Regions from separate parts of the Homo sapiens genome. Here region 1 is linked to region 2. Evidence: fine-mapped expression QTL. A gene starts in region 2. The other region holds a variant in brackets. All regions are shown on one strand. Distances are from middle to middle.

Region 1 (4,399 bases), 23 kb after region 2:
AAGGTCAAACATCACAAAAGTGGGAAAACAGATTTAAGTCCCGATAATCTGGCTCTGGGTTTCCTTTATTTACTATTGCTCCTCTTTATTGTTATGATAATACTAGTAATAATGGGCATCTGTGGTTCTGTCTTCAACCAAACACTCCTAAGATAAACAGATAAAGTCAAGGGTGATCAATCTTGAGCTTGTTGAGTAAAGTGAAACTTCCTAAGAGTGATCAAAAGTGGATTAAATAAAAGAGAGTTAAATAGAGCCCCACCTGGCCTGGGATTGAGAACTAGAAAGATATCTTTAGGGACAGAACAATTGGTGATTTTAGTTGGGGGATTTGTGATGTTATCCAGCAGAGACAAGCTTTGCATTAAAAGTAGGATGTATGTGGGCATCTTTGCTTTTCTTCTTTGTCGACTCTAGTTCCTGTACCTCGCTGTTTCTTCTGTCCTTTCTTCATAGGCTACAGCTGCTTTATATCTAATAAACATACACACTATTAATCTCTCCTGAGTGTGCACATTCTGTGTGTGTGTGTGTTGATGTATGGTACATATGTAATTTGTCTCCATCAATTATGAACTTCCTGAAAATGTTATTAATTCATCTGACTTAATAAACATTTTACTTCACGCAATGTGTATCCAAGGTCATGAAATTATGACCTCACTGCTCAAGAAAACAGGAAAACAGTTGCGCTGAATGAGGTACCTAAAGCTGCCAGGGGCCCAGGCAAGAGGCCTGAGTAATGATGTGATGTACTAAGAATGAAGAGACAAGGATATCCGGGAAACTGACCAAAGAGTAGGCAGAGTCAGCGAGCTATTGTGCAGTGGACAAGAAGGAGATTGGCACTGCTGTAAGGGCTGGTCTGGAGATGAGGCACAGTGCATTTCAATTATGGATACCACAGCGAGGATATTCATTCCCTATCCACACCCACACTGGGCAGTCAACATTCCTCTTCTAGCAAGAGATTTTAAAGATGATCATGGTACTTCAACTAGATACTAGCTCACTTACAAAACACATTTGCTGCATATTCTTTTCAATAGCTTCATGTGTTTGTGTATGTGTGTGTGCATGAACATGCGTGTATTTGTAGTTATTCATTTCCAGTAACATCTTGACATTCAAACCAGAGCATTCTCATAACTGTCCTGACTTTTGAGGAAGCAGCCTCCTGTCTCACTTCACCATCTCCACATTCACTCCTCGGTTCCCTAATAGCAACTCCTCTACCCTTCCTAGCCACCCAACTTGAGGCTTTCCTGACTCCGTTCACGAAATTTCCCATTGCTTCCCTTTCACATAGTTTAGGAAAAATATCAAAGAGATACTTCTTTCTGAGCTCCATGACCTACATTCATCAATATTTCTTAGTAACAATTTAGATTTTCTAGATCCACTTTCTCTAAAAGTCCCAACTGCCCTCACAACTTAATCTTTGAATCAACCTACCCAGAAATACCAACACTCTACAATAAAGACATTTCTTCTTTCCATGCAATATAATGAAATCAGTTTTGAAACCAAGAAAGAATCCATATTCTAGGATTCTAGGACTATCCAGGATGTTTAGAAAGGATTTAAGGCTGTTTACAAGGGCTGTTAGATACAGCATACAGCATACAGCATACAGCATACGGTATACATAACATACAGTAAAAAAGCTCAGGAAAGTGGCGCTAGAAAGGGAGGGAAATAAGAAGAGGTCAGAATCACTGTCGCCTCCTCTCCCCGGGCACAAGTCAGGAAGGCATGCTTACTGTCAGGATCTGCGGGCTTGACATGCTTGTATTACCATCACATTT[C/T]CCAGGCTTACGACACCCATCACCTGGCTGTCCTCCTGCTTCCATGTCCTTTTAGTTCTTCCTCCACACTGCAGCCCAAATGATCTCATAACACAAGCTGGATCAATCATTTCCCCCTACTTAAAACTTGCAACTGACCGGGCACGGTGGCTCACGCCTGTAATCCCAGCACTTTGGGAGGCCGAGGCGGGTGGATCACAAGGTCAAGAGATCGAAACCATCCTGGCCAGCATGGTGAAACCCCATCTCTACTAAAAATACAAAAATTAGCTGGGCGTGGTGGAGTGCACCTGGAGTGCCAGCCACTTGGGAGGCTGAGGCAGGAGAATCGCTTGAACTCGAGGGGCAGATGTTGCAGTGAGCCGAGATTGCACCACTACACTCCAGCCTGGTGACAGAGCGAGACTCTGTCTCAAAACAAAAACAAAAACAAACAAACAAAAACTTGCAACCACTTCCCACCGCATTTAGAACAGAATTTGGACTCTTCACCATGGCTGTCACGGGCCTGCGTGATGCACAGTCTCATCTTGTGCCCCTCCCTGCTCTGCTCTCCACTCTCTAGTCACCCTGGCCTCCTTTCTAGCCCTTGAACTCCTTAACTCAATCTCTCATCAAAGCTCCTGTGCACATTGTGCCTCCTGCTGGGGGTACGCCCTTTTGTATGGCTGGCTCGGTTTAAATTCAACCTTTTTGAAGAAGCCCCTGTCCCAGCCATCCCATTTAAAATTGGTTCCCAATTTGGCAATTATTTAGCTTGGTCCCTTATTGATTGGTATTGCTGCATTTATATAGTCATTTGTTTATTCGTTATATGTTTCCACACATCCACTTCCTTGACCCCTTATTAGAATGTGAATTCCATGAGGGCAAGAACCATGTCTGTCTTGTTCCCTCTTGAATCCTCAGTGTCTAGCTTGAAGTTTGACATGTAGTAAATGCTCAGTAAATTAGTTGAGTGAAAGAATAAAATTGATTCTAAGCTTTCTAAGCCAAGCTTGGACAGTTAAACAATTAATAATATTTCCAAGATTTGGGGAGCAGGGGCAAAGCTAAGCAACTTTTCACTCGGGGAAACACAACTATTTTGTGTTTGTGTGTTTGTATTAAGGTCAAAGGGAAATTTTTCCTAGTGTTCTTTAGAAAGCACACTAGGTAATGAAATAAAGAGTTCCTCATCATTATTTTTAGACCGTATTTAATAACTAGTTTCAAAAAAGTTGTTTTATTAAAATAACTTCATGAAAGGCTAATGGCACTATAGATACTACAATTCAATGTACACTTTTCTTGCTAGGATACCAGTACCAATATGGTGTTGTCCAGATACTCAGTTATAACCAATTCTGATAGGTCTTCCATCAAATCTATATACTCCTCTTCCTCCTGGGAAGCTACCCTACATTTTCCAGTCTCCCTTGGGATTAGGTTATGGTCATGTGACTAAATTCTAACTAATGGAATGTGAAAGGAAATTATGCGCATCATTCCTAAATCTAGCGCATAAAAATCTCCCACTGAGATTCTGTATGCCCTTCTAGTCTATTTAACTGTATGGAGACCTCCAGGGAAAATTTGAAGACCACATGTTGAAGATGGCAGAGCCGTTGTCTATCTGAATCCTTGAATGATTACATGGAGCAGACTGCCTGCCTAAGTGAATATTCACTCTGTTTTTTTGTTTACATGAATTTTACTCCATGCCTAAGACGCAACATATATATATATCCTTTTACCAACTCATATATGCTGTTAACAATGTGATAGGCCCTATTTTTAAATTTTTGCACATATTAATTCACATAATTATCCTAACAACTCTCTGGGTCAGATACGTAGATGAAGAAATAGAGACACAAAGAAGTTAAGTCACTTACCAAAGGTCAGATAAACAGGAAGCAGCAGAACCAGAATTCAAACCCAGATAAACTAACCCTAAAGTCCGTATTTTTAATCAGGTTACTATTTACACTCTCTGTTTATGTAGTTCTAAAACAAAAGCTAACTAAATAAGCCAAGCCTCAGCCTTTCCCACATATTTGTTTCCTAAGACCGCGTGAAGTACTTGGATTTTTGGTACTGATTATTGTGGATCACAAGACATTATTTCTCAACCAATGTTTGGCACATGTAGGTCTATCAGTATGATCTTGGGTGTATTATTATCTCTGGGTTTCTTCTTTTTGTTTCATCAGGTTTCTTTTAGAAGGGAGAAGGAGACAGAGATAAGATTGTAGGAGCAGGGTGTAGATCTGGGGGTAAGGGTGAGAAAAAGAGCTTGACTGATGACTTGCCAAGGTATTATCAGCATAGTGAAGAGACAAACTCATTTATTTGTCTCAGTTAGCCTAACAAATCCATGTACCACAGCCTTAAAAAGGTCAGAAAACACAGCCCTAAAGGATCTTTTGATCTTTGAATCAGCTGAATGATCAAACTGAATAAATTTACGAAAACTAGTCTCATTGCCAATGTAACTCTTGACGATATGTCAGACATGAAGCCCGGACCCTGCCAGATGTCCTGTGTAGGTAGGACTTCCCCATACCATTATGTTGTCATCTTTGTGGCTCCAATGGAGTGTTGATTTT
Region 2 (4,399 bases):
ACAGTTGCCCCTTTACAGAGTAACCCACGTATGCAACAATTAAGACATATGACATATTTGGACATTAGCATGTGGAATTAAAATGACACACAACAATCTACTGGTTGCTGTCCAATGTATTGTAAAGCAAATAAACTCTGAAGCATGACCCATAATACTGTCTCTACCATCTCCTTTTTCAAATCAACCTCAAACTTCCCCCTGTCCATTACACGAACATTTCATTTCTGGTGATTCTCCTGACATTTCATCAAATAAATCCATTCAACAATTCGGCAAGCACCCACTAAGCACCTATGTGTATTGCCAGGTACTGCACTAGGAACTTGGGACTCAGAGAACCTTAAAGGTGTGCTTCTTGCCTGTGAGGAGCTCCAGTTCAATGGAAAAGCTCACCAACAGGAGAAATCTGGGGAGAAGACACCCTGAAGCAGCAGACAACAAAGAGCCTGATGATGGGGAGACCTCAAATAATGAAGGCAAATAGATCAGGTTCCAGTGGCAAGAGCAGCAGGACCAGGATTGTTCATCCACTCACAGAATCTTAGGCTTGGAAAGGAGCTTGGAGGACATCCAGGCCAACTCCGTATTTGACCCTGATACAACTGTCTCATTACTGCTCACACTGAATATTTTTACTCTGCATTTTGTCAATTTAGGTCTCTCATTCCCTGCCCCTCAGAGCCATAGTATTTTTGGGTTAAAAGTCCTGATTAGTTGGTAATCTCACTCAGGCTTAGCCTCTCCACCTCCATCCCCTCCACATGAACCCATTGCCTTTGCTCTTCTACTCAGTGCATCCAGGCGGTGAGCAATCAATAGCAATTATTTCAGTTCTGTTTAATTTTTCTACCTTTTCGCTGATCATTTTATATGGAAAGAATAAGCCTTTCCATAGTCCCCAAATCATGCTTTTGTTCAATAATGATTACCTCTATAAGTTATTAAGATAATAGTTTTGGGTTTTTTGTTTTTGTTCCCCCTCCACCAACAGCTGCCTCTTAGGCATAGCTTGTAAACAAAGGCCAGCCTGGAGGGATCACCGTCTGCTAAATGGATAATCACAAACAGATGTCAGTCATAGGAAAACAGATTTTTAAGTTCTTCACCATTAAGCCTCCGAAAACTCTAAGCTGAGAGACAATCTTAAGAATAGTTATATTATTTTACAGTGCACATATTTGGTGCAGAAAATATCTCACCTTATAAAACTGAGCAACAAGAACAATATGCATAGGAACAAGTGAGAGAAATCTGGGGCAGGAGGACATTAGCTTATTTGTGCCCCTCAGCACAATTTCTGAGGCAGAATGTCTCTTGCCTCAAATGGTGTGGAGAGAAGGTAGGCCACCCTTCCCCCACCCTGGCAGCCTCATCATGGTCCACAACATAATAGTATGAGAGTATCTCAACCCACTCGTTACTCACATGAGGACTTGCCACAGCTCCACAAGTAAAGATGCAAAAGTAAACAACAAAAAACAGTTGCTGTTTGTGTTAGATTTCCTTATAGTAGCCACCAAAATGAACAGCCAAAAGGAAAAACAAAACAATCAACATGCAGTAGCTCCAACCCAGGATTCTTTCTAGCTGGGACATATGAGGATGGGTAACAAAAAAGCACTCAAAATTTGGCGTTAAGATATATTCAAGAGAAGAAAAGTTGTTCATTCAGCTTAAGGTTTGCCGTAACATGAGAGTGAGTCAAACCAGAACTAGTTCTGAGGAACTGACGAAAGCCTGGCTTATTTGGAAAGTTTTGGTTTTGCTTTTAGCAGTTTGTCTGTGAATGGGATTGCATTCCTGATTTGGCTCTTGGCTTAGCTATGGTTGGTGTTTAGGAATACTAGTGATTTTTGTATGTTCATGTGGGATCCTGAAACTTTCTGAAGTTTATCAGCTTAAGGAGCTTTTGGGCTGAGACTGTGGGATTTTCTAGATATAAAATTATGTCATCTGCAAACATGGGTAGTTTGACTTCCTCTCTTCCTTCTTGGATGCCTTTTCTTTCTTTCTCTTGCCTGATTGCTCTGGCCAGGACTTCCAATAGTATGGTGAATAGGAGTGGTGAGAGAAGGCAGCCTTGTCTTGTGCCGGTTTTCAAGGGGCATCCTTCCAGCTTTTGCCTATTCAGTGTGATGTTGGCTGTGGGTTCATCATAGATGGCTCTTATTATTTTGAGGTATGTTCCTTCAATACCTGGTTTGTTGAGAGTCTTTTTTTTAACATACCTTGAGAGTTTTTAATACCCTTTTATTCCCTCTCTTTCCCCTATTCTTATATGTGCTCCAGCTTCCCCATTGTCCCTGGAGCACATTTAGGAATAGGGGAAAGGGATGGAATGAAGAATACCAGCATGTCTTAGTGCTGTGCCAGGAAATTGACTCATTTCCTAGGGCTTCTGTAACACATGACCTCAAGTCCTTGGCATTCCCTGACTTATAGTTGTATCACTCCAATCTCTGCCTCCATCTTCAAATGACATTCTTTTCTGTGTGTATCTCTACATTCCTCTCCTCTTATGAGGATACCATCCGTTTGATTAGTGCCCACCCTAATGCAGTATGACCTCATTTAGACTACATCTGCGTAGACCCTACTTCCAAATATAGTCACATTCTGAGGTCCTCAGTAGACATGAATTTGGGGGGAACATTATTCAACTAACCTCACTTCATTTCATAGTGCCTCATTTCATTCTCAGTGCAATGTGTGGTTTAGAGTTAGACCCATTTTACACATGAGAAAACAGGACCAAGATCAAACAATGTTTCCTTAGTTGCATGGCTGAATTTGAACTCGGACCTCAGTGGCCCCACTATACCTTCAGGCTTGTGATTGGTGAGATTAAAACCACATGGCAAGAAAAGGCAAACTTGAATATAGGCCTGAATGATCAATCCTTCTCCTGCTGCCTCCCGCCCTTTTCCTTGTGCTTATAGGGGTAGGACCAGCAGAGATGTGGGGCTGAACACTCAGACAGAGGATGTTTTTAAGAAAACATCTCTCCTTGCCTGTCCTCTAAGCCTTCCCTGCCTCCTTGTTTCTTCTACAAAAGCAAGGATCTCCTTTCCTCCTCCTTGTCCTGCATCCTCTTTTCGTCCCATCGCTTGAACAAGAAGTACTTTAAGAAGTACTACGAAGCTGTGTAGTACCTACAGATGGGAGTGGCTGCCTAGACGGCAAGAGTTGGGACTGTGTCTGTGGGACCCGTGCTTCCTCTGGGGATCTGCTTCTACACCCACGGCTCCAGGCATGTGGTTTCCTTAGGAGTTGCCATTCTCTTACCTGACCCTCTGTTCCTGGCCACAGTGACTGGCTGAGGAATGGACATATGTCCCCTGTGTGGCTTTGAGTTTTAGTATCTATGGAAAACACACCTCACCTACCAGAGTTCCTGTCCTTCTTTAGGAGTGAGGTGCACTCACCACAGTTTCCTTTCCTCTCTCTTGGGTAGCCTTTCTCCAGGCTTGGCCTGCCTCTCCTCTTCACACTTTCCTTTGGGCAGTTCAGCTCTGCTTTGCCACAGTTTAGGGCATCCTGAAGCAAAGGAAGGCCCAGGTATATTCACAGCAAGGCCAAATGAAACTCAAGCTAGTGTCTCAGCACATTAGCCTGCCTCATAAATCTATATGTCTAGAGAAAATAATGGAGGGTTACAAACCAAAGTGTTAATAAAGGCATTTCTGGGTGGAGGTAACTTTTTTTAGTTTTTTGTTAAACTTTTGTTTTACATAGGTAACTTTTTTAGTTTTTTGTTAAACTTTTATTTTACATAGGTAAACTCGTGTCATGGAGGTTTGTCATACAGATTATTTTGTCCCCTAGATACTAAGCCTAGAACCCAGTCATTTTTTTTTTTTTTTTTTTTTTTTTTTTTTTTTTTTTTGCTCATCTCCCTCCTCCCTGGGGCCTCCACCCTCAGCTAGGCTCCAGTTTGTGTTGTTCCCCTCTTTGTGTCCATGTGTTCTTATCACTTAGCTCCCACTTATATGTGAACACATGTGGTATTTGGTTTTCTGTTCCTGCATTAATTTGCTAAGCATAATGACTTCCAGCTCCATCCATGTTCCCGCAAAGGACATGCTCTTTTTTACGGCTCTATAGTATTCCTTGGTGTATATGTACCACATTTTCTTTATCCAGTCTGTCGTTGATGGGCATTTAGGTTGATTCCATGTCTTTGCTATTGTGAATAGTGCTATGATGAACATGTGTGTGCATGTGTCTTTGTGATAGAATGATTTACATTTCTTTGGGTATATACCCAGTAATGGGATTGCTGGATTGAATGGTAGTTCTGTTTTTAGCTCTTTGAGGAATTGCCACACTGCTTTCCATAATGGTTGAACTAATTTACACTCCACCAATAGTGTATAAGCATTCCCTTTTCTCCATA

The links. PIP is the estimated chance that this variant, and not a neighbour inherited with it, causes the effect. A credible set is the group of variants that fine-mapping cannot tell apart.
Region 1: its variant is the best candidate, but not a certain one, in a credible set for the expression of PDCD1LG2 in fibroblasts (GTEx, PIP 0.67).

The regions. Positions count from the first base shown.
Region 1 is chr9:5,485,201-5,489,599 of GRCh38, reverse strand. The region is part of intron 2 of INCR1 (interferon stimulated noncoding RNA 1); the gene reads left to right. Among named protein-coding and RNA genes, the nearest start is that of PDCD1LG2, 23 kb to the left of the region's middle. The variant C/T (reference allele first, on the strand shown) is at 1,809.
Region 2 is chr9:5,507,833-5,512,231 of GRCh38, reverse strand. PDCD1LG2 (programmed cell death 1 ligand 2) reads right to left here and starts at 1,701. Exons shown (of 7, transcript NM_025239.4): 1 at 1,429-1,701. The region is part of intron 2 of INCR1 (interferon stimulated noncoding RNA 1); the gene reads left to right. RefSeq lists enhancers at 1,603-1,652, 1,813-1,872, 1,933-2,012, 1,954-3,153.